Linked DNA regions of Homo sapiens. The protein of the gene in region 6 purifies or fractionates together with the protein of the main gene of each other region. This does not show direct contact. Each region holds a gene or a part of one and is shown on either strand. Other genes may lie near its edges. The genes, in order: TMBIM4, PRMT8, GPHN, ELAVL2, RPTN, OTUD4 and HRNR.

The links.
Region 1: the proteins of OTUD4 (region 6) and TMBIM4 purify together in Homo sapiens (co-immunoprecipitation; one large-scale study listed by IntAct). This does not show direct contact.
Region 2: the proteins of OTUD4 (region 6) and PRMT8 purify together in Homo sapiens (co-immunoprecipitation; one large-scale study listed by IntAct). This does not show direct contact.
Region 3: the proteins of OTUD4 (region 6) and GPHN purify together in Homo sapiens (affinity purification with mass spectrometry; one large-scale study listed by BioGRID and IntAct). This does not show direct contact.
Region 4: the proteins of OTUD4 (region 6) and ELAVL2 purify together in Homo sapiens (affinity purification with western blotting; one study listed by BioGRID). This does not show direct contact.
Region 5: the proteins of OTUD4 (region 6) and RPTN purify together in Homo sapiens (affinity purification with mass spectrometry, with the first as the bait; one large-scale study listed by BioGRID). This does not show direct contact.
Region 7: the proteins of OTUD4 (region 6) and HRNR purify together in Homo sapiens (co-immunoprecipitation; one large-scale study listed by IntAct). This does not show direct contact.

The regions. Positions count from the first base shown.
Region 1 is NC_000012.12:66,167,197-66,171,403, forward strand, and holds the start of TMBIM4 (protein lifeguard 4), read right to left. Parts: upstream 2,801-4,207; 5' UTR 2,756-2,800; coding exon 2,659-2,755; intron 1-2,658.
Region 2 is NC_000012.12:3,585,203-3,588,702, reverse strand, and holds part of PRMT8 (protein arginine N-methyltransferase 8), read right to left. Parts: intron 1-3,500. UniProt on the Homo sapiens protein: S-adenosyl-L-methionine-dependent and membrane-associated arginine methyltransferase that can both catalyze the formation of omega-N monomethylarginine (MMA) and asymmetrical dimethylarginine (aDMA) in proteins such as NIFK, myelin basic protein, histone H4, H2A and H2A/H2B dimer.
Region 3 is NC_000014.9:67,106,147-67,109,646, reverse strand, and holds part of GPHN (gephyrin), read right to left. Parts: intron 1,274-3,500; exon of another isoform or gene 1,185-1,273; intron 1-1,184. UniProt on the Homo sapiens protein: Microtubule-associated protein involved in membrane protein-cytoskeleton interactions. It is thought to anchor the inhibitory glycine receptor (GLYR) to subsynaptic microtubules.
Region 4 is NC_000009.12:23,763,741-23,767,240, forward strand, and holds part of ELAVL2 (ELAV-like protein 2), read right to left. Parts: intron 1,360-3,500; coding exon of another isoform or gene 1,269-1,359; intron 1-1,268.
Region 5 is NC_000001.11:152,153,095-152,156,228, forward strand, and holds the end of RPTN (repetin), read right to left. Parts: coding exon 1,650-3,134; 3' UTR 501-1,649; downstream 1-500. UniProt on the Homo sapiens protein: Involved in the cornified cell envelope formation. Multifunctional epidermal matrix protein. Reversibly binds calcium.
Region 6 is NC_000004.12:145,170,590-145,174,089, forward strand, and holds part of OTUD4 (OTU domain-containing protein 4), read right to left. Parts: intron 1,132-3,500; coding exon 1,081-1,131; intron 1-1,080.
Region 7 is NC_000001.11:152,217,694-152,221,193, reverse strand, and holds part of HRNR (hornerin), read left to right. Parts: coding exon 1-3,500. UniProt on the Homo sapiens protein: Component of the epidermal cornified cell envelopes.

The DNA.
Region 1 (4,207 bases), on a different chromosome or scaffold from region 6:
CATTTGTCAAACTCATAGAATATACAACACTAAGAGCGAACCTTAACGTAAACCTTGGTCTTGGGTGATAATGAGGTGTCCAGTCTAGGTTCACTGATTGTAACAAACATACCACTCTGGTACAGAACGTTATTAGTGCAAGAGGCTTGGGGAAAAGCAGAAAGGGTATATAAGAACTCTGTTCTTTCTGCTAAATTTTGCTATGAACCTAAAATTGCTTTTAAAAAATTAATTGGGCAAAGGACTTGAATAACATTTCTCCAAGGAAAATGTATAAATGCCCCACACGCATACTTTTAAAATGTGCAACATCATTAAATCATTAGAGAAATGCAAATCAAAACCAAAAGGACATACCACCTCACACTCATTTGATGGCTATTTTCATTTTAAAAAGAAAGAAAAGAACGGAATGTGTTGGCAAGGATGTAGAAAAAGGTGAACCCTTGTGCACTGTTGCTGAGAATGTAAAATGATGTAGCCCCTATCAAAAACAGTATGGCCGTTCCTTAAATAATTAAAAATAGAACTACCACACAATCCAGCAATTCCACTTCTGGGTATATATTCAAAAGAATTAAAGCACGGTCTTGAAGAGGTATGTGCACACCTATATTCATGACAGCACTATTCAAAGTAGTCAAGAGGTAGAAGCAACACAAATGTCCATCAATGGATGAATAAACAAAATTTGGTATATACATACAAAGTACTACTACTGTCTTAAAAAGGAAATTCTGCAGCCAGGTGCAGTGGCTCATGCCTGTAATCCCAGGACTTTGGGAGGCTGAGGTGGGAGGATCGCTTGAGTCCAGGAGTTCAAGATCGGATGGGGCAACATGGAGAAACCCGTCTCTACCAAAAGTACAAAAAAATTAGCCAGGCCTGGTGACCTGCATTTGTAATCCCAACTACTCGAGAGGCTGAGGCGGGAGGATCACCTGAGCCCAGAAGGTAGAGGCTGCAGTGAGCAGTGATCTCACCACTGCACTCCAGCCTCGGTGGCAAAGCGAGACCCTGTCTCAAAAAAAAAAAAAAAGGAAATTCTGACATATGCCACAACATGGATGTATTTGAAGACATTATGCTAATTGAAAAAAGCCAACCACAAAAAAACAAATACTGATTGTATCTAGAGTAGCCAAATTCACAGAGAGAGAAAGTGAAATGGTGGTTCCAGGGACTGGGGGAAGGAAGGAATGGGGAGTTAATAGGTATAGAGTTTCAGTTTTGCAAGATTAAAAAGTTCTGGATATTGGATGGTATATAAGTTTAGTCTAAAGCTATGCCTTTAGATATTTTAAGTTCAGCCTAGGGGTTCTCGGTATATAGTGAACTATAACCTAGTAAACAGGCTGTAACCTACGCTTGAACCAATCACTGAGTTTCAGCCAAAGATGGCCACGTGTTCAAACCATGTTCAAACGGGCAAAAACCAAGCTGTAACCAATCAACTCTTTCTGTACCTCACTTCTATTTTCTGTACCTCACTTTACTTTCTCTCTCCATAAATTTTCTCCCACCAAGCGGCAGGACTCATCACTCTGAACCTTATTCTGGTTCCGGGACCTGCCCAATTCGCAAATCATTCTGTGCTCAAACTCCGTTAGATTTAATGTGTCTAAAGTTTTTCTTTTAACAGTGCACAACCATGTGAATAACTTAACACTACTGAACTATACACTTAAAAATAGTTAAGACGGTAAATTTTATGTTACCTGTATTTTACCACAATTAATTTTTTTTAAAAAAAAGCTGAGTTCACTGGCCAAAATAATTTCAAAATTCAATTCCAAAAATATAAATGCTAGGCACCAAGATTCTTGGTGCATCAGAACTATCTTCATCTTTCCTTTTCCAGAACAAGTTCTAGGCACTAAGATTCTTAGCACATCAGAACTATCTTCATCTTTCCTTTTCCAGAACAAGTTCCAGCTGCCTAAACAGGCTGAAAGTCTGGGGCTGTTTCGGCGATCAAATGACCAAACTAGAGCAGGCAATGGCTTCCACGTAGATGAAGCTGAGCATTTTAAATTCAAAAATTTCTGCCCATTGGCTACTACGTAATAACTTAAAACACAATTTAGACTGACTTAGGAAGCTTCTGTGTTGAGCAACTTCCTCAATAATCCTCAAAGACCTGTTGCATTCTGGGCCCTGCGGAGAGGAAATAGTGCCGTCAGGGAGCTTCCAGCCTAGCACAGGACGGTAAATATAAGCCTGTAACGCGAAACCCCACAGAACAAAAACATCAGGCCGTGGATTCCACTCGTGTGTACGTCAGTCACAGTGATCAACCGACTCATTTCCACGACGTTTCTTTTCACTTCAAGATGCCAAATTCAGGCTGCGGCGGTTTCCATCTGTCCCTTCCTACACCGCGGCGCCCGCTGGGGAGCCGGGGCGCACACAGGACAGCCGCAAGCCTTCTGGGCCTGGCGCCCTCCCACACCCGCTAGGAGGGGAGGAAGCGCCTCCCCGACTCCCTGAGGAGGGCGCCAGTCCTCTGGTACCCGGAGAAGGAGGGCCGGGAGCTCAGTGAGCACTCCCTGTGAGTCCCAGGAGATGGCCGCTCTCCCTCGGAAGCCGGAAGTCGGCTTCTAGAGGCCGAGCAGTGCAGACAAGCGGCTGGGAGGCACTGGAGAGGGGACAACGTACCCATTCGGATGTGCACGGTGGCGGAGGCCACGCTGCTGCCATAGTTGAAGTCGTCCTCGATCGAGGAGCGAGGGTACCGGGGGTCGGGGTCAGCCATGATGGCAACAGCACCCCTACCGGTCCCGGTCCACTAACCGCAACCGCCTCCTCCCCACTTCCGCGAGGAAGAGCCCAGCCCCAGCAAGCCGTGCGGCGTCGGCGGGCGAACACCGAGCGAGTCGATTTTCTCGCTTCAAAAATTCCAGCTGGGCGGAGAAAGCGGGGATGGCTCCGAGTTAGAATGGAAGAGAAAACGGTTTACATTCCCGGCGTCATCTGAAGTGAAACTTTTCTCAACACACTTTTTTTTTTTTTTTTGAGATGGAGTTTCACTCTTGTTGCCCAGGCTGGAGTGCAATGGCACGATCTCGGCTCACCGCAACCTCCGCCTCCCGGGTTCAAGCGGTTCTCCTGCCTCAGCCTCCCGAATAGCTGAGATTACAGGCGCCTGCCACCACGCCAGGCTAATTTTTTTATATTTTTAGCAGAGACGAGGTTTCACCATGTTAGCCAGGATGGTCTCGATCTGCTGACCTCGTGATCCGCCCGCCTCGGCCTCCCAAAGTGCTGAGATTACAGGCGTGAGCCACCGCGCCCAGCCTGAACACACTTTAAGTCCTTTCACCTTGGAGAGTTGCTAAAGTGATAGAACCCATGTCCCAGTCACCCATCCACTCAACAAATACCCATCTCATTCATCCACTTTTTCAATAATCACACCGAGGATGCATTTTTACTTCTATTATTTTAAAATAATAATAATACCTACATTTATTGAGCACTTTCTATAAACCAGGCTTTCTGAATGAAGTAATATTTAATCCTGAAAGGCAAGTAGGAGCCAACCAGAGAAAGAGCAGTGATGTAGGCTGGGCCTCAAGGGACCAACGTCTGCAAAGAGGGAGACGGTGAAGCTCAGCTGGTGTAGGGGACAGGTGGCAAAGAATGAGGCTGGATAGATAAACAAAGGCCAGATCATCCTAGGCCAGAAGTAGAATACATTGAAGAGGGCCATTACCAAAGGCAGAGAAAAGGGGATAAAGTTGTATTACTGTAAGAGAGAGATGATGGTGGCAAATACAATGGATTAGAGTGAATATTCATGATATTGTTGTCATTCCAATATAAAGAGGTGTAGACATACCCAGAGTAGTGTCATCCTAGGGTCCCTTGGAATTGTTTTGATGAGTTTACTCTGATCTACCCACATTGCCCAGTCCTCACCTTAACCACAACACCCGAACACTTAGCAAGTGGAATTCAGAACAGTTGTGGAACAGTCTATTCTAAACTAAATCCTTAAACTTGATGTTCTCAGAAGCCTTTGCCAAAAGAACTAACGTCACTTCCACAATGACAAGAAAAACAAAACAAAACAAAAAAACACTTTATCTTTTATGATTTTACAAACATTTTACAAGCATATCATTTTAATTTGTTTTTGTTGGTTTGTTTTGAGATAGAGTCTCAGTCTGTCACCCAGGCTGGAGTGCGGTGGCTCTATCTCGGC
Region 2 (3,500 bases), on a different chromosome or scaffold from region 6:
AGCATGACCAGTACTGCCTGCAGCATTCCTAGTGCAGTGCATTCATTCACCATTCCACAGACTTCCACTTAGGATGCCTGCCACAGGCCGGGTATGGCTGTAGAATTGGGGAACAGCAAACGGGATGAACACCACTTTGTCCCCTCCTCCCCCGATCATACAGCCTCAGTGAGAAGACATTCAGGCAAATAGTGAGAAGTAGGGTGGGCACTATGACCAAGGATGGGGCTTGGGAACACAGGGAGCTGAGGGTACAAATGGCAGGGACTGGCCTCTCACCAGAGTTTTCCTGGTGCTTTTGGAAAGGGAATGGAATCCTGCTTCCCATCTCACTGACCAATGGCTAAGTGGCTGGTCGTCCTTTCTGGGATATAATTTTTCTAGCTGTAAGTTTGGAATTATATTCTCTAGAGAATTCATAGGCCTTTTGGAGAATTGAGGACTATGCACCAAGAAGCTTCTTTAATGTGGGAAAATGACTCAATGTCACAGGATGTCAATGGCAGAAAGGAGCTGCCTGAGCCCAAGGCGCAGAAAGTAAACTTGCCCAAAGTCCTTTCCAATGTCTGATCTGCCTACCTTGCTGATACCTGAAAAAACCAGGGCTTGCACCCAGGCCTGCTTCTGCTGGGGCTCCTGCCCTTCCACCTGCTACCTGGCTTTCCTGGATTACACAGCAGCCCCAGGGGCCCCAGTTCCCACTTCTACCCCCACCCCACTGAGGATGTGTTGTGGTGGGGGGGGCACCGTGCCCACTGGCTGCCACAGCCTGGAACCCTGGCTGTCTGTGCCTATTTGTGACAGCTTCTGCCTGGAGCTGCAGAGACGTCAGAGTCATTAGAAGGGATCATTTTTCAGGCTGTGCGGTATGGGATGTGTTTCTAAGTGGCCCGCAGAGCGCGCTACCACTGGGCTGAGAACAGAAGACTCAGTTGGGGGTTGATGCAGAGGGACCACACACAGCAGGCTACACTTTGCATCAAGTTCAAAAACAGCTGAGACCAAACAATACCTTGTTTAGGCACACACATCCATGTGATAAAACTTTTCATAAATAGCAAGGGAATAAGGAACACAAAATTCAGGATAATGTTCATCTGGAGGCGATACGGGAGGTGGGATGGGGTGGGGCATCCAGGAAGATGCAGAGGTGTTGGCAGCATTTCAGTCATTGAGTCAGGGCATAGCTCGAATCAATAAGTGTAAGCAAATTAATGCAAATATGCATTAATTGATTTACATTTAATTATAATTATATTACAGTTATTACCATGTCTTTCTAGTCAATATTTATATTTTAGTTAAAAACAATTTATTTTTAATATTAACTAATGTATTTACCTTCTAATAGTAATACTAATAAATTTATTAGTATTTATTAATTTATTTTGTTAGTATTTATTAATTCATTCTAGTTACTATTTACATTCTAGTTAATAGTAATTAATTTATATTCTAGTTGCTGAGTTATGTGGTGAGTTCATGGATATTCATTATATTAATATATAATATAATTATATATAATTAATATATAAATTAGCAAAAAAAGTGAACCATGAATGGTCCAATAATGACATATGGCATGAGCCAAGAATTAGGATTAATCTAAGTCTGTGCATCTGAGATCCATAAAAACAGAAAGGGTTACTCGGTCAGTTGTCAGAATATAGATGGTCTGAGTATACCCCACTGCTAACCCACATGAACTGGGAAAGAAGTTTGCTACCTGCTAGAAACAGAGCCCCCACGCTGACACGCGAAGGTGGCTGAGAAAGCAACTCAACAAAGTATTCTCCCACCCCCATTGCTACCCATATAGGCATGTGCCAAGAAGAGGGATCTACGTCAGCCAGAAAGCAAAGAGTCTTGGTGAGGCCTGAGGGTATACCTGAGTGAGGAGATGGAATAGCCTTTCCAGAAGAAAGTCAACATTGGTCAAATTCTCAACCCTCTGGTTCAGGGCAGTCTTGCACAGAGGCAGTGGTCCTTAAGCTGGAGCATGCATCGCAATCACCTGGAGGTCTTGTTAAGACACAGACGGCTGGCCCCCACCCCCAGAGTTTCTGATTCAGGAGGTCCAGGGTGAGGCTCAAGAATTTGCAATTCTAACAATTTCCCAGGTGATACTGGTGTTACCCGTCCAGGAACCACACTTTGAGAACCACTTCCCCAAGGCATGACAAACTGGAGACTGTAGGACCTCCAAATGTCTTTCAGAACCTAAGTTTGTAGAATTCTGTGCAAAAGGGAGGAGGCATAACACTATAATTGCAAAAAGAGGAGTAGGCTCACAACTGGGTTTAGATCCTTGGTCTTTGAGCCACGTAGGACTGTGGTGGGGGTGTGACCAAAGACTAGGAAGGAAAGCCACTGGGTTAGAGCCTTCAACACTCAGGGCAAATCCTCGCCATCTTTCAGGCAGCCCAGAGCCGATGTCTTGATTCTGGATGTGAGCTTAATCCAGGCTCCTCCACATGGGACCATGAAGAATGTCATCCCTAACACCCCAGAGCCAGGGAGCCATCTCTAGACAGGGTCCAGCAGGCTGTCTGCTTGACTTTGGAGACTAGAAATATTAATAGATCATCTCAAGGAAAATAAAACTATGGCTGAGAGCTGCAGGGATAGAGCCTGGGGTTTGGAAACTTAGAACTTTTCCCAGAGCATCCTTGCCCATGGACTTTCTCATCAGCAGGGCAGGCTCTGGGTTAGACATCATCCTGGTGATGGAATAGGCAGAGCCAGCTCCTATGACTTCATCCTTAGCTTCCAATCACAGCCACTGTCCCCAAGAAGGCTCCTCCCCAGCTCCCTCACTACCCCTACTCTCACCATTGCTAGGCACAGTCTTCCCAATCCTTCAAGATCAAAGTAAAATCCACCTTCCCCCTCCTGGCTGCTCCTGCCCACTGGGAAGACATGTACTGCTCCTGTGAGGAGGGCAGCAGCTGATAATGACCCAGATCAGGGCAGGAAAGCACCAGCACTGCCTGGCTGACGGAGACCAAAAGTCCCAATCTTAGTAATCAGGAGGCACTGGTTCTGGGAAAAGCCTTTCTATGAAGAGATAAATCTGTCTCTTGCCCTCTCTTTCCATAGGTAAAAGAGAATCATTGAGACCAGCCTGGGCAATGAGGCAAGACCCCATCTCTACCAAAAAAAAAAAAAAATTAAAAAGTATCCAGGCATGGTGGCATGTGCCTGTAGTCCCAGCTACTTGGGTGGCTAAGGCAGGAGGATCGCTTGAGCCCAGGAGGTCAAGGCTGCAGTGAGCTATGATTGTGCCACTGCACTCCAGCCTGGGAGACAGAGTGAGACCTTGTCTCTGAGAAAAAAAAAAAAAAAAAAAAAAAAAAAGCATCATTTTCTTCATGGCTTCTGGAAGTAAAGAATCATGTCCTCGATTTCTGGTAGAACTCACCTTCCCACTCCCCCTACTAGACATACAACTACTCACCTCCTCACCCCCTGATGACATGCTCCCAATTCCCAGGAAGACT
Region 3 (3,500 bases), on a different chromosome or scaffold from region 6:
TATTGCCTTTGAAAATATTCTAAAACACATTAGCTCACCTATCAATTAATAATAGAGGTTGAGCAAATATAATTAAATCATTTAAAAATGATTCCAGTGTCTGTAATGACCTAGGTTAAACATTACTTTTGAAAATGAAAAACAAGATTTTCATTGTTTGTGCTCTCATATTGATGGTATAAGAGACAGAACCTTCCCTGCTAACTTCTTACAACATGAGGAAAAGCATTTTTCTGTAAGATTCATCTGATAGATTTGATCTGATAGAGAAGTGATCTGAAAGTCACTTGTCAGGGGCAATGATTTAGACTGGAGTTTGGAAAATGAATGCTTCAAATTCTCCCTAAGAAAAAATCCTGAGACAATATTAATCCCCCCTGCCAAAAGATTCCTTTCTAAAGATGTCTGCCTCATAAGTATAGTCACGTGCTGCATAAGGATAGTTTGCTCAATGTTGGACTGCATATATGATGGTGGTCCTATAAGATTACCATATTTTCTACTGTACTTTTTGTTTTGATAAACAAATACCATTATAATTGCTTACGTATTCAGTAATACTGTAATATGCTGTGCAGGTTTGTAGCCTCGGAGCTACAGGTCACACCATGTAGGCTAGGTGTGTAGTGGGCTACTCATGCAGGTTTGTGTAAGTACACTCTATGATGGTCGGACAACAAGAAAATTGCCCAACAACATATTTCTCAGAATATATCTTCATTAAGTAACTCATGACTCTATTTAAAATCTTAAGTCCCTACAATGTGAATATATTTACCACTACTGAACTATAAGCTTAAAAACTGTCAAGATGGTATATTTAATGTTATGTGTGTGTATGTTTTGTCATTGTTGTTATTTTAACCACCAAAATAAGACAAAGTAAAATAAACCACACACACACACACACACACACACACACACACACACACACCCCTTAGGGAATGGTTAAGAAAAAAAAATACCTTACTACTGAAAGTACAATCAAAGTAAAACAGGAAATTTATTACAAAAGTCTTAAAAATCTTCTCTCCATAATATTATTACTGTAAGCAATACTACCAATAACTAATATTTATTGAACCCACAATCTATGCTAGGTACAATGTTAAGTGCATTATATATTACAGAATATAAGCCTTACAAAGACAAAGATTTGTTTCATTTTCTGTTTGCCTCTCCAGATCACATCATCATTCTCTACTCTGTGCTGTGGTCCAGAAGCTGACCTCTATGGACTATTTTAACCAGTTTCCCACCACTTTGGCGTCTGGTGAGACTCAGCCAAAGGGAGGGGTCAGTAAGAGATGTAGAGGGTAGGAGAGAGACAGAAAAGTAGAGTTTTCATTCCCCTTGCTCTTTTCCTCCTGGGCTGCAGTTTGGTGATGGTTAGGGCATCTCTCCTACTGAGAGCAAGAGCTGCTGTTGGGCAGTCCTCTCCCACAGATATGAATCTTCCCAGGTTCAGGTACCATTGTCTTTCTTTGCTCCTTCAGACTAAGATGTGGTAAGGAAATCTCACTGTTGCTAGCTCCTGGGTGCTGCAGATTCCTTTATTGGTTTCCCTTAACTCCATCCAGACATTGGAGATAGTTTCTAATCTTCTTTAATCATCCTTTTTCCAGACATATTGCTCTGTTATGGCAAGGCTTAGAAAGTATGTTGCACACACTTTGCCAAGCTGAGCACCTACGCATCCCAGGCTGAGCTGATGTAGTCACTCATGTCCTAGGGAAACAGAGTGCTGATTGAGCCAAGATATCCTGACCTACAGGCCAAATAACTCTAGTACCCTGCTTCTCTGGAGCTAGACTATAGCCCCTTAGAGTCTGAGCTGCTGAGATACCCCCCTCTCTGGGGAGTTGAGTCATTTCTGTGTTGATCCTTGGCCCCCCCGGGGATCAAACCACAGCTGCGCTCTGCCATTCTAAGGTATCTGCTGCTTCTGCACCTGGCCTCAGAGTCTGAAGTGAGGACCTGCGTAGCCCCACCATCCAGGGGTCTAGGGTCACTACTACACAGTACCTTATCCACTGTGACCCGAGCTGCTGCTGAGCCCTACTGGCTCTGGTTCCTGAGCTGCGGCCATACCCTGCTCCCCTGGCCAAAACCTTTTTCTTTGGAGTTTGGTCAGTACTACACCCTACCCATGAGGTATAAAATCACAGGTACAACCAGGGCACCTGGGTCCAAGCTGCTAGGGGGTGCCTCAGTCATAAACCTTGGTTCTTTGGATAACCTACACCCAACTCTGCCACAGAGAGTGAACCTGAACCCCAAGAACCAGGTGCCACAATGGATTCACAAGACCCTGAGCCTTGGATCCTGGCTCCACAGTCACTCCAAGCACCATATTTTGAGCCCAGTGCCACTGTAGCTGCTTGGAGGGCATGTCAGACCTAACACCAAGAGGGATCCCTTCAGCTGATTCTCCCTATTGTGTGGAAAACAAGAAGAGGAGGACTCTAAAAGCCCTTGACACCAAGGATATTAACAGCCTATGCCACTACTACCACTGACACAAACTTCTATGGATTAGGCCACTGAGGTACTCACAGTTATTACTGACATTGAATGCAACTGAAAAAGCTGCAAGGAGACTACACCATTGCACCTGTCCAGAAAGTCACCATACCCTTTGCAACCAACACACTAAAGCCCAACTACAGGCGTCTCTACAAAACCACCCAGAAAGTCTGAAAGAAGCAAAAGTTCCACTAGGCACACAGATCAACATGGGGACACAAGAAACACAAAAAAGCAAGGAAATATGACACCACTAAAGGAATACATCTCTAGTAACAGACTCCAATGAAAAGGAAATCAATGAACTCCTGGAAAAGAAATTGCAAAATAATGATCTTAAGGAAACTCAATTAGATAAAACAAAAACAAAAACAAAAACAAAACCTAGCGATAATTCAACAAAATCAGCAAAACAATTCATAAGAATGATAAATTCAACAAAGATAGAGAAATCATAAAAAAGAACCAAACAGAAATCCTACAGCTGAATAATTCAAAAAATGAAATAAAAAATTACAATAGAGAGCTTCAATAGCAGTCTTGATAAAGCAGAAGAAAGAATCTTTGAACTGGAAGATAGGTTGTTTGAAATACCCAGCAAGAGAGAGAGACAGAGAGAAACAGAAGAATGAAAAAGAGTGAAGAAAGCTTGTAAGACTTATGGGACACCATACAAGAACAAATATTCATATTATTGGAGTTTCAGAAAAAAAGAAAGGAAAAGGCATAAGAAACTTATTTAATAAAATAATAGCTGAAAACTTCCCAAGTCTGGGGAAAGGTATGGATATCCAGGTCCAGGAATTCCAAAGGTCTCCAAATCAAGTCATATATAATGAAATCCACATTAGACTAACAGTAGATTTCTCTGCAGAAACCTTACAGGACAGGAAGAAAGGAGATAACATCTTCAAAGTGCTGAAATAAAAAAATTTCTAACTATGAATACTATATGCAGCAAAGCTATCCTTTGG
Region 4 (3,500 bases), on a different chromosome or scaffold from region 6:
AGACTGAACAAGAATCAGTGCTGTCATGATAAAAAAACATGAGGCAAAATCCAGAATAGCTTTTGAAATATCCAACAACCTGTAACCCCTCTGTGACTTCATTTCCTTGTCAAAGAAGTGGGAATTTATTCTACAAGCTGCAAGCTGTTTCTCTACGTAAGCTAAGTTTTCTCAGGGAATACTTAAAGGGATGAAGGAAAATAAACCTTTGGAAATCTGTATTTAAAAATCTTAAATAATTCAAGATATGGGTTTTATTATAATTAGCAAATCTATTTGAATTTGAAAAGGGAAGTTTCAGATTTCCTAATTAAACATAACTGTTCTGGTTTGTAGAATATTAGCTGTGGGTCACTCTTTTCACAGCAAAAATTCTTCTGGGGTTAACCCTTGCCCAGCAGTTATGGAAACAATGAGCTACAAGATTAAAGTGGCCAAAGACACTTAAATCACTACTGAAAAGTTTGGATGGGTGTAGAAACTACAAGAGACCCGAATGGGAGATTCGGACTAAAGCTCATTGGGATAGCATTTGAAATACAAAGTGTTCATTGACTGAAATCAGCAAGATTTAGAAAGGACAACAAACACTCCTCACTTAATTGCACATTTATTTCCATGTTCAGGTGGCAAGAATGAGCTCCTAAGCCAACATTCAAGTGAACAGCTGCAGTAGGCTGTGTGCGCTGAAAATTACAGCATCTCTCTGCTATAGGACCATCTGCTCAGAATAAAATGATACTAATGTGCTATATTTTACAAATAATGCATATTCCATTGATAGGCTCAACACAACTGTTCACAGAATGCAAACTCTTTCAACAGTTACTGGGCAAATAATTTTCAGCCAGATTTACAATTTCAACTTTTTTTTTGGAGCATAAAGAATTGTAAATAACTTCAAAATTTAGTAACCAAAAAAATACATAGTAAACAGAATGTATAGAATTACGGTAACTTAGTATTCAGACCATACCAAAACTTTTTTTGTTTTTTTAAAAAAGCTTGTCACTCTTTTGAGTCTGCGCTAAATCCTAATTTAGATTGTAAAAAAATTACATACGAGAGCATGGTTCTGATGCTACATACACCACTACAGTTAAAATTGCAATGTGCTTTAAGTCCTAATGATGGCCATACCACAATAGGTTAAATGTAAGAATAATTAGTATGCCAAATGAAAGATTCAAGTGTTTGGTATGGCCTCAGCACTCCTCCAACATGCTAAAAAAAAGTAGCCTACAGAATTTAAGAAAAATCCCACAGACCCCGGTCCAAGGCTCTGCTGCCCACGAACCACTTCTAAGCAGAGAAGCCACATCACACAGTCTGACTGCCATGTTAGTTTGGAGTTGCCGTCTGCAATATGGACACAAAAAGTACCGTATGTTAGATGAGCAAGATAATGCAACAAATCAGTTTGTACAAAATTTACAGTGATTGTATTGATATTCCCAGCACGTCCATGCAGTGTGGCTTAATTGAAATTGAGGCAATTCCAATCTAATCTTTCCAAATTCATTTCAACATGTAGTTTTCTTGCACAAATATAAGCATTTTTAATTAAGAGCCTGATTTTAAAACAGTATTAACTAGTTATCTTGGCATCTATTCTGAAGAACTAATGTAAACCACACCTCAAAAATTTAAAAAATAAAGTAAAATAAAGCAAAATACTGCAGGCTGTCTTATCTCTTAAGGATGTGGGAGAAGGGAGGAAATGTGAATGAAATTTTATAGTGGGAAAAAGTCATCATGCAATTCCTAAGTGATTGGTTTGCATAAAAGCACTCTTTCCCCAAAATATCAGAAAGACATTAAGAGAAGCTATATTTGCCCACACTGTTACATTATACTATAAATGATCCTTAATCCTGGGACTTAAAATTAAAAGTGAATCGAAACCCTGTGAGGTTATTTTGCCACTACAGTCAAACGGTTTCTAACAGTTTCAATGAGAATTGCTCACATATACTAAGAGGCAGTAAACCAGCATCTTTCAATTGAAATAATTGGACCGATAAATAGGATTGTTTGGAGTAATGCTCGCATAGGATGTCAGCTTTGTCCCTGAACGAAATCAAGTGAACATTTTTTAATATGTAAATTGTAAACCCAGCACGATTTGAAATTAGTGCTGCTATGAGGCCTCCAATATAGTTAATGGGCCATTTACCACTTATTGAAACTTGCCCAAATACCAAACAGAGCCATGATATTGGCACAAAAGCCAAAGTTTACTTTTTTTGCCATATATGCAGATGCTTCAAATGGTCAATATAATCAGAAAACTTAGTTTCTAAAAATAGACAGTGAATAACAGAAGAGGTCCAAAAATGTCTTTTACTTATTGATAATTATAAAAATTTTATCCTGAGAGGCAATCCTGGCTGTGATTTACTCTTGATATTAGCAATGCCGCCAGTAACGATGGATTCCACTTTCTGGCATCTATCAAAAAGGATTAACATACTTTTTTACAGGAAGCCATGAAAATATTTTACTCTTCTTCCGTTCTCCCACTGTAACAAGAGATTTTGGTCTGACCCTATGTTATTTTTCAAAAAACTACTTATAGTTTAACTGAACCTGTGAAAAAGTGCTTTACACCCATGAAAGATTTTTCATAAGAACCCAACTGTAGTTAAGACTACATGAGCAGGACCACACCCAGCAGGGTAAAGCAGGCATAAATGTATGTCCTGAATACCTTCAGGAGTTCAATCTAAACATTGCTCACTACATAAAACAGATTTTAATTTAACTGCCTCAGTCCCTTCTATTTCATAGGAGGTGGACACTAATGAGCTAATCTATTGACACCCCTCTTTCTGAAAGCCCCAGGGAGGTGAACAATCACTTTATTGCACCAACTAGATAGGAAGGCTGTGTATGGAAAATGATTCTACTGCACTTTTACATTTCAAGCACCCCAGACAGTCTTCTCCGCTTGAGGCAGACACATACCTTTATGGGAAGTTATAAATAAGTTGCTCACATGGCCCTTACCTTTATGCTGGCCAACAATTCAGTTACTAAAAATGTAAAGCTACTTCCCCTTCACTTAAGGACAGGCAATTCTGCTCTACTCAATCTACCACAGACAACTGGGCTGTGTACTATTTATAGATTCCACTGGCTCTGAAACTCTTCGGAAAGAAAAAAAAGGCCATATTCCAGTGAAACAGAGCCATTAATTTTAAGGCTTAAAAAAATAATGTTTCAATATATATTCTCCTCTTAATTTAGACATCACTTGTGCCAATTCAGACTGCTTTTCCTCCTGTTATTATCCAAGTAATAATTTACGAAAAGGCACTTTAGCATAGATGAATCTAGAATATTCTAAACTTTCACTGGGCTCCAAGGTAAAATGGCTGTTACTATGGTGAAAGCGTAGGTTTTATTGGGAAATAGAAGATTGTCTCTACTTTTATACACACAGGTACTTCCAAAAAGCCATAAAGACTTCTAAACTTTTTATTTAAATAATCCTTTAT
Region 5 (3,134 bases), on a different chromosome or scaffold from region 6:
AAAGGCCAAGTCCTTGGTGTGGCTGGAGCATTGGATGCTCCTGGGAGGGGCCTGTCATGTGAGTAGGCTGGGTAGGTCATCTGATCAGATAGTGAGGCCTATGTGCCACACTGAGGGATGTAAATTTTTTTCTCAAGTCACTGGGGAGCCACTGAGGAGAAGGGCCATTAAGGCAGTGGAGATGGAGACGTGAGAAGAGATTCAAAAGTTATGGGGATGTAGAGTTGGGAAGACTCAATGACAATTTGAATGTGGTGGTGAGGGAGTGGTAAAGGTAAAATATGACTCAGTAGAGGGAGGAGGAGCTGAAAATTATATTTAGATAAGTTTCATTTAGACTCTTTATTATTTGTTTTGTATTGATTCTTATTTTTTTTCAGTGCCCAGGAACTCAGGGAACAAAGACATTTTAGAAGTCAAGAAATAAGGTGTTATTTTTGGAAAATGGCTCAAAAGTGAAAATAGTACAACCCCACAGTGAAGAAAGGAGTCATGACAGTTATTGCTCATCAATTATTTATTAGATATTTTAATACAATTCATAATCTGCACATAGATTTTCTTGAGAAGAGTTTTCAGGTCTTAGGAGCTATGAATCAATAGTCTTGATCCCCTGGAATTTGCAAACATATGACATATACTTTCTCTTTATTTTATATAATCAGAAACTAGAAAGGTATTGAATTGGAATGGGTCCATTCAGCTCTAGTGATAGGCACTAATGGACAGTCCCTCTGGTGTGGAATAAGAGCCTGGCATGGGAGATGTAGTAAACATCAGAGATGCACTCTATGTTCTCGGCTCTTGTAGCAGCCTTGAACTGAGTTTCATTCTAGTCTAGACTATGAGGCTTGAAATTCCTGATGTTTTATCCACAGGAGCCAAAGCTCACCAAATCTAGGGTTCCTTGAGGAGTGGAGATGTAGTATAATCCTTGGATGTAATGTAAATCTTCAGAATATCTTTTCTGTTTCTGAACTTTAGGGAGAAGTGTTCTACCTTTCAATGATTCAACCAGGTCTCATCTACACAGAGGGCAAAGCAGGAAATGATTTAAATACCCAAACTGATCAACATTAAGATATGATTATTTCACCCAATTTACCACCTAGATTTCACTGAATCAGAAAACCCTAGAATTGCTGCTCAAAGAACCAAAAGCCCTTACGTGAATGCTAGTACTCAAAAACATCCTTGCAGGGAGATACAGCAGAGGATAGAGGGAAGAAATACATTCTCAATCTCTTAAATCGAATTAAAGGTGAACTCGACATATAGGTTTCTTTTTTGGCTTTGTGTTGCTTTACCTCTGGTGCTCACATAGCCTAGTATGGGTAGGATTTCTGCTCTTGCACATAGTCATAGGGGGGGTTGGGAACAGTAGCTCCCTTGGCAGGGTGACCACGCTGTTCTCTGGTTTGGGGCCTCCCACTGCTCTGGGTTGGATAGAAGGATGGTTCAGTGTGTCTTTTCTGTGAGCCTTGGCTCTGGTCATCCTCTTTCATGTGGAATTTTTCTCTGTTAGGACAGCTTCTGTGGGTCACTTGGGATTTTTGATTCTGAGATCCTTGATACCTCTCTTTCTCCTCATAGTTTTGTCTATTATGTTGTTGCTGATGGTTTTGATCCTCTTCATGAGTTTGCCTGTCTCATCTCTGATGGTTCTGCTCGTCTTCATGGGTTTGCCTGTCTCGTCTCTGACGGTTCTGCTTGTCTTCATGGGTTTGCCTGTCTCGTCTCTGATGGCTCTGCTCATGTTCATGGGTTTGTCTGTCTCGTCTCTGATGGTTCTGCTCATCTTTATGGGTTCGCCTGTCCTGTGTCCCACATGGACCTTCCTGACTCTCATGGCTGTGTCTATCCCAAGTTTGATGGCCCTGCTCTTCCTCTGCCCAGTGGCTCAGCCCCTCACCATGACTCTGCCTGGTCTGGGCCTGTCTGTGGCCCTGCTCACTACTGCATGATTGCCAGTCTCTCCCTTTGTGACAAAGTGGTCTTTCTTGTTGGATTTGTGCTAAGAGTTTGTGTTGGTGATGTTGGCTATCCTCTTCAGGCTCCCATACCTGGTGGCCGTTCTGCTGTGAGTCCCTAGACTGGAATCCCTGTCCCTGGTTTTGGTACCCTTCCTGTCCTGGAGTCTGTTGACTTAGCCTCCCTGATCTTCCTGATTGTTCAACATAAGAGGCTTTTCTTGTTCCTTCAGTCCCTTGGAAGTACTTATTTTGCCCTTGTATTTCCCCAGTCTGTGATTGAATATAGTGGGAACTCTGGCCTTGTCTGTCTGTCTGACCATAATGATAGCTCTGGCCTTGTCTGTCTGTCTGACCGTAGTGGGAACTCTGGCCTTGTCTGTCTGTCTGACCATAGTGGGAACTCTGGCCTTGTCTGTCCATCTGACTGTAGTGGGAACTCTGGCCTTGTCTGTCTGGCTGACCATAGTGGAAACTCTGGCCTTGTCTGTCTGTCTGACCATAGTGGGAACTTTGGCCTTGTCCGTCTGGCTGACCATAATGATAACTCTGGTCTTGTCTGTCTATCTTACCATAGTGGGAACTCTGGCCTTGTTTGTCTGGCTGACTGTAGTGGGAACTCTGGCCTTGTCTGTCTGTCTGACCATAGTGGGAACTCTGGCCTTGTCTGTCTGTCTGACCATAGTGGGAATTCTGGCCTTGTCTGTCTGGCTGACCATAGTGGGAACTCTGGCCTTGTCTGTCTGTCTGACCGTAGTGAGAACCCTGGCCTTGTCGGTCCATCTGACTGTAGTGGGAACTCTGGCCTTGTCTCTCTGTCTGACCATAGTGAGAACTTTGGTCTTGTCTGTCTGTCTGACCATAGTGAGAACTCTGATCTTGTGTGTCTGGCTGACCATAGTGGGAACTCTGACCTTGTCTGTTTGGTTGACTGTAGTGGGAACCCTGGCCTTGTCTGTTTGTCTGATCATAATGATAACACTGGCCTTTTCTGTCCATTTGACCATAGTGGGAACTCTGACCTTGTCTGTCTGGCTGACTGTAGTGGGAACTCTGGCCTTGTCTGTCCGTCTGACTGTAGTGGGAACTCTGGCCTTGTCTGTCTGTCTGACCATAATGATAACTCTGGTCTTGTCTGTCCGTCTGACCGTAGTGGGAACTCTG
Region 6 (3,500 bases):
TTTCCTATGATAGGGAAACTTTTTTGTTATCTACATTATCTCTGCATCCCCAGGGTGACTAGGAATTCTTGGCCCATAACAAGCACTCAAATTAGTGTTAGGCAACCAAATGGATACATCAGTCATCGATCAAACACCCTTGGTTCCTACATTACATTCCCTTTACTCCTTAACTCTTCTTAGCTTTTTTCTTTGCCAATGTTATTTTTACCTTAACATTCTAAATGGCATTCCAAGATACTTGGATTTTTACAGTGAGAACGTTAGTTTTGTAAACAGAAAAATTAAGAAAAATCCTTTTAACATAAACATGACTGAAAAAGTATAGCAGCAGGAGTTGGTGAGTAAGTGCTATCCTTTTCTGTCTCAACAGTCTCTTCCCTCTTCACGAGATGATCATGGAAATAGGAACCTGCATGAAAGAACTCTGCCTTCTCAGTTGCCTAGGAAGAAAAACTCTGCAGGCCAGGTGTGGTGGCTCACACCTGTAATCCCAGCACTTTGGGAGGCTGAGGCAGGCGGATCACGAGGTCGAGAGATCGAGACCATCCTGGCCAATATGGTGAAACCCCATCTCTACTAAAAATAAAAAAATTAGCTGGACATGGTGGTGCACGCCTGTAGTCCCAGATACTCGGGAGACAAATCGCTTGAACTCGGGAGGCGGAGGCTGCAGTGAGCCGAGATCATGCCATGCACTCCAGCCTGGCAATGGAGTTAAATTCCACCTCAAAAAAAAAAAAAAAGAAATCAAACTTCACCCTGTCCAAGTTCCATACACACACCAACGTAGCATTCTGAAAATCATCACCCCAGTATTATTTCAGATTTTTATACTACATTTACATGCCATTATAGCCAAGATAAAATATCACAACTCTGCCTTAGTGAGGCAACCTCTAACATATAGCTCCAACTTAAGTGCTGCATAAAATGTGTAGGAAACGTTTATAAGGAAATAGGATACACCGTCACTGCAACTCCTCTATACACTGTAATAGTAATCTTCTATTTTAATGAATTTTAAATACATTATTTGGATATATAAAAATAGAAATATACTAGAAGACTGTGACATACCTGTGGATTTTCCAAACGCTTTAAATATTCTTCAAATGATCCTTCTATAAACTGCAAAAAATAAATCTATTAGAAATGTCATCTAACATATATGCCAAAACAGTTAACCGCTTCGCTGTGTAAACATTCACTGTGAATTACTGAGTTTGTACATAAACCTAAAATACCTCAGTATTATTTAAAAATATGTACATAATCTAATTATGAAAACATATAGCAATCATTAAAGACTATAAACATACAAAAGAATTTAAAGAAGGAAATTCTGTCAGGAAAGGTTTCCTGAAAGAAGAGTGACTCAAGATGAATGCTGGACAGGATCTGGATGGCAACAGGCAGCTGATACTCTACAGAGAGGGCCAATGTGGCGTGAGGAGGAAGAGGAACACTGTGTTGGGAAGACAAGCAATCTGGCCAGCTGGAGCAGGACAACCTGTTGTGGAACTGAGTGGGAGAAGAACCCAAAGGGGGGCCTGTTTACAGAGGGCCTTGAGCCCAGGCAGGACTTGAAGGCTAGATGAGAAAGGCCATTCAAGGCCACTTCAGGTGACATTCTGAACTGAGAAATTATATGATGAAAGCAGTGCTTTAACTTGGTAGTGACCAGTGTGTAGAAGGGAATAAAACAAAGACTGACTTACAAGCTAAGAAATAGTATAGCTTAATAATACAGATAAGAGTACTCATTGTCTCTCAAGTGATACTAGAAAGAGCGATGAGAACTAGTAAGGCGAAAAATATTTTGAAGCATCAACAAAATTTTTCTAATACAGCTTGCTTCATCGCTTCATTGTTACTTTGACATAAAAACAGTTTATTCAAGCTGTGTAATAACACAACCTTTTTTATGTTTCTTTAATAGCAATCGCACTCATTTGAGAAATCTCTAAAAGTCATTTGTTGAACCACCAAATTCAATTGCGTTTAAATTACAGTCCCAGTTGATTTAGCAGAGATATACTTAAAGACATTAAAGTATACTCCCTTGTCTATAAAATCTTTTAAGCACCCTTGGATTTTAAGATTGAGATTCTTTCATAGATTATATAATGTCAAATTGCCAAAAATATCTTAAATTTCGAAAGATATTTATAATAAAAGAGCCATATATATTAAAGAGCCCACCAATAAAGGGCTACTGTTCTGTATTAGATGATTATAGGTCTAAGGAAAAAAAAAACACAGAACCATTTAAAGTTACTAGAGACTGCAGAATTCTGACACAAGCCTGCATCCTCTCTGAGAGTCTCCTTTCTGAGCAGAAAGCGTCCACCTATGCCATGGCTGAACAATGTCAGTAACAAGGCATAATACTTTCTACAACATCTCTTTCCAATTCTGGACAACTGAAACTGCTTGAAGGTTCATAAAAGGAAAGTGAAACTTTTCCCCATGGAACTTTCAACCTCTGATCATACCTCATAAAATTATATGGACTAAGGCCAGGCACGGTGGCTCACGCCTGTAATCCCAGCACTTTGGGAGGCCGGGGCAGGCAGAGCATGAGGTCAGGAGATCGAGACCATCCTAGCTAACATGGTGAAACCCCATCTCTACTAAAAATACAAAAAATTAGCCTGGCGTGATGGTGCCAGGCACCTGTAGACCCAGCTACACTGGAGGCTGAGGCAGGAGAATGGCATGAACCCGGGAGGCGGAGCTTGCAGTGAGCCAAGATGGCGCCACTGCACTCCAGCCTGGGCGACAGAGCGAGACTCTGTCTCAAAAAAAAAAAATTATATGGACTAAAAAAAATATATGCAAAACACTTAATGCCTGGCATATAGTAAGCACCTCAACCAATGTTAGCAATGTCCATTATTATCAACACAGTTTTACCCTCTGGGGCCAATGATTAATAAGAATTAATTTAAAGACCATTCCACCTCCCCACTTCCCTTCTCTACCACACCTCTGCACTCTCTTATCTAGCCTCTGCGTTACCAGGTTTTTTTAATAAAACAAGGTTTCAAGCCTATCATTTGCAAAGTATTATATCAACATTCTCTACCAGTCAACTGGGGGAAATAACACCCAAAGTTGTCAGATTACATAATTCTAGGTCTTAAAACCAGTAAGTAATAAATCCTGTAAGACTTTGAATGTAAAATGAAAACAGGTCACTGTGGCATCTTATTTCACATACTACTGAGAAAATTATATTAAGCTGTTATACAACATTTTATTAACTATTAATCACTACTTACATAATTATAATGTTCTGACATGTGAGTTCACACTGAACCCTGAAAATTAAAAACCTATGAATGCCTTCTGATAAAATTAAGGGTTCAGCATTACTTACACTCAGCGTATTTTTTACACTGCAAGTCTGAATTTTTTTTTTTTTTTTTTTGAGACAGAGTCTCACTCTGTCACCCAGGCTGTGGTGCAGCGGCGCAACTCGGCTCACTGCAACC
Region 7 (3,500 bases), on a different chromosome or scaffold from region 6:
GGAAGTCTTAAACCTGGGACTGAATCCATATCCAGAAGACTGAGTTTTCAAAGAGACTTTTCTGGCCAACATAACTCCTACTCAGGTCAGTCTTCCAGCTATGGTGAGCAAAACTCCGACTCCCATCAGTCTTCAGGCCGCGGCCAATGTGGGTCTGGGTCAGGGCAGTCTCCCAACTATGGCCAACACGGCTCTGGCTCCGGACAGTCTTCCAGCAATGACACACATGGGTCTGGCTCAGGCCAGTCTTCTGGCTTTAGTCAACACAAGTCTAGCTCAGGGCAGTCCTCTGGTTACAGTCAGCATGGATCTGGCTCAGGTCACTCCTCTGGCTACGGACAACACGGCTCTAGGTCAGGACAGTCATCTAGGGGTGAACGACACAGATCTAGCTCAGGTTCGTCTTCCAGCTATGGTCAGCATGGGTCTGGTTCCCGTCAGTCTTTGGGCCACGGCCGACAAGGGTCTGGATCTCGCCAGTCTCCTAGCCACGTCCGACATGGGTCCGGTTCGGGGCACTCCTCCAGCCACGGCCAACACGGGTCTGGCTCAAGTTACTCTTACAGCCGTGGCCATTATGAGTCTGGCTCAGGCCAGACTTCTGGCTTTGGGCAACATGAGTCTGGCTCAGGACAGTCCTCTGGCTATAGTAAGCATGGTTCTGGCTCAGGTCACTCCTCTAGCCAGGGACAACATGGATCTACGTCAGGGCAGGCATCAAGCTCTGGCCAACATGGCTCCAGCTCACGTCAGTCTTCCAGCTATGGTCAGCATGAGTCTGCCTCCCGTCACTCTTCAGGCCGCGGCCAACACAGCTCTGGATCTGGCCAGTCTCCAGGCCACGGCCAGCGTGGGTCTGGGTCAGGGCAGTCTCCCAGCTCCGGCCAACATGGGACTGGCTTTGGTCGATCTTCCAGCAGTGGCCCATATGTGTCTGGTTCAGGCTACTCTTCTGGCTTTGGTCACCACGAGTCTAGCTCAGAGCATTCCTCTGGTTACACTCAGCATGGATCTGGCTCAGGTCACTCCTCCGGCCACGGACAACACGGCTCTAGGTCAGGACAGTCATCTAGGGGTGAACGACAAGGATCTAGTGCAGGTTCATCTTCCAGCTATGGTCAGCATGGGTCTGGCTCCCGTCAATCTTTGGGACACAGCCGACATGGGTCTGGATCTGGCCAGTCTCCTAGCCCTAGCCGTGGCCGACATGAGTCTGGTTCCAGGCAGTCTTCCAGCTATGGCCCACATGGGTATGGCTCAGGGAGGTCTTCAAGCCGTGGCCCATATGAGTCTGGCTCCGGTCACTCTTCTGGCTTAGGTCACCAAGAGTCTCGCTCAGGACAGTCCTCTGGCTACGGTCAACACGGATCTAGCTCGGGTCATTCCTCTACCCATGGGCAACATGGTTCTACATCAGGACAGTCATCGAGCTGTGGCCAACATGGAGCTACCTCAGGTCAGTCTTCCAGCCACGGTCAGCATGGCTCTGGCTCAAGTCAGTCTTCTCGCTATGGCCAACAGGGCTCTGGATCTGGCCAGTCTCCTAGTCGCGGCCGACATGGGTCCGATTTTGGGCACTCTTCCAGCTACGGCCAACATGGGTCTGGCTCCGGTTGGTCTTCAAGCAATGGCCCACATGGGTCTGTCTCAGGCCAGTCTTCCGGCTTTGGTCACAAGTCTGGCTCAGGGCAGTCCTCTGGTTACAGTCAGCATGGATCTGGCTCAAGTCACTCCTCCGGCTACAGAAAACACGGCTCTAGGTCAGGACAGTCATCTAGGAGTGAACAACACGGATCTAGCTCAGGTTTGTCTTCCAGCTATGGTCAGCATGGGTCGGGCTCCCATCAATCTTCGGGCCACGGCCGACAAGGGTCTGGATCTGGCCACTCTCCTAGCCGTGTCCGACATGGGTCCAGTTCAGGGCACTCCTCCAGCCACGGCCAACACGGGTCTGGCACAAGTTGTTCTTCCAGCTGTGGCCATTATGAGTCTGGCTCAGGCCAGGCTTCTGGTTTTGGGCAACACGAGTCTGGCTCAGGACAGGGCTATAGTCAGCATGGTTCTGCCTCAGGTCACTTCTCTAGCCAGGGACGACATGGATCTACGTCAGGGCAGTCATCAAGCTCCGGCCAACATGACTCTAGCTCAGGTCAATCTTCCAGCTATGGTCAGCATGAGTCTGCCTCCCATCACGCTTCGGGCCGCGGCCGACATGGCTCTGGATCTGGCCAGTCTCCAGGCCACGGCCAGCGTGGGTCTGGGTCAGGGCAGTCTCCCAGCTATGGCCGACATGGGTCTGGCTCCGGTCGGTCTTCCAGCAGTGGCCGACATGGGTCTGGCTCAGGCCAGTCTTCTGGCTTTGGTCACAAGTCTAGCTCAGGGCAGTCCTCTGGTTACACTCAGCATGGATCTGGCTCAGGTCACTCCTCCAGCTACGAACAACACGGCTCTAGGTCAGGACAGTCATCTAGGAGCGAACAACATGGATCTAGCTCAGGTTCGTCTTCCAGCTATGGTCAGCATGGGTCTGGCTCCCGTCAGTCTTTGGGCCACGGCCAACATGGGTCTGGATCTGGCCAGTCTCCTAGCCCTAGCCGTGGCCGACATGGGTCTGGTTCCGGGCAGTCTTCCAGCTATGGCCCATATAGGTCTGGCTCAGGGTGGTCTTCAAGCCGTGGCCCATATGAGTCTGGCTCCGGTCACTCTTCTGGCTTAGGTCACCGAGAGTCTCGCTCAGGACAGTCCTCTGGCTACGGTCAACATGGATCTAGCTCAGGTCATTCCTCTACCCATGGGCAACACGGTTCTACATCAGGACAGTCATCGAGCTGTGGCCAACATGGAGCTAGCTCAGGTCAGTCTTCCAGCCACGGTCAGCATGGCTCTGGCTCAAGTCAGTCTTCTGGCTATGGCCGACAGGGCTCTGGATCTGGCCAGTCTCCAGGCCACGGCCAGCGTGGGTCTGGGTCAAGGCAGTCTCCCAGCTACGGCCGACATGGGTCTGGCTCCGGTCGGTCTTCCAGCAGTGGCCAACATGGGTCTGGCTTAGGCGAGTCTTCTGGCTTTGGTCACCACGAGTCTAGCTCAGGGCAGTCCTCTAGTTACAGTCAGCATGGGTCTGGCTCAGGTCACTCCTCTGGCTACGGACAACACGGCTCTAGATCAGGACAGTCATCTAGGGGTGAACGACACGGATCTAGCTCAGGTTCGTCTTCCCACTATGGTCAGCATGGGTCTGGCTCCCGTCAGTCTTCGGGCCACGGCCGACAAGGGTCTGGATCTGGCCATTCCCCTAGCCGCGGCCGACATGGGTCCGGTTTGGGGCACTCCTCCAGCCACGGCCAACATGGGTCTGGCTCAGGTCGTTCTTCCAGCCGTGGCCCATATGAGTCTCGCTCGGGTCACTCTTCTGTCTTTGGTCAACATGAGTCTGGCTCAGGACATTCCTCTGCTTACAGTCAGCATGGTAGTGGCTCAGGGCACTTCTGTAGCCAAGGACA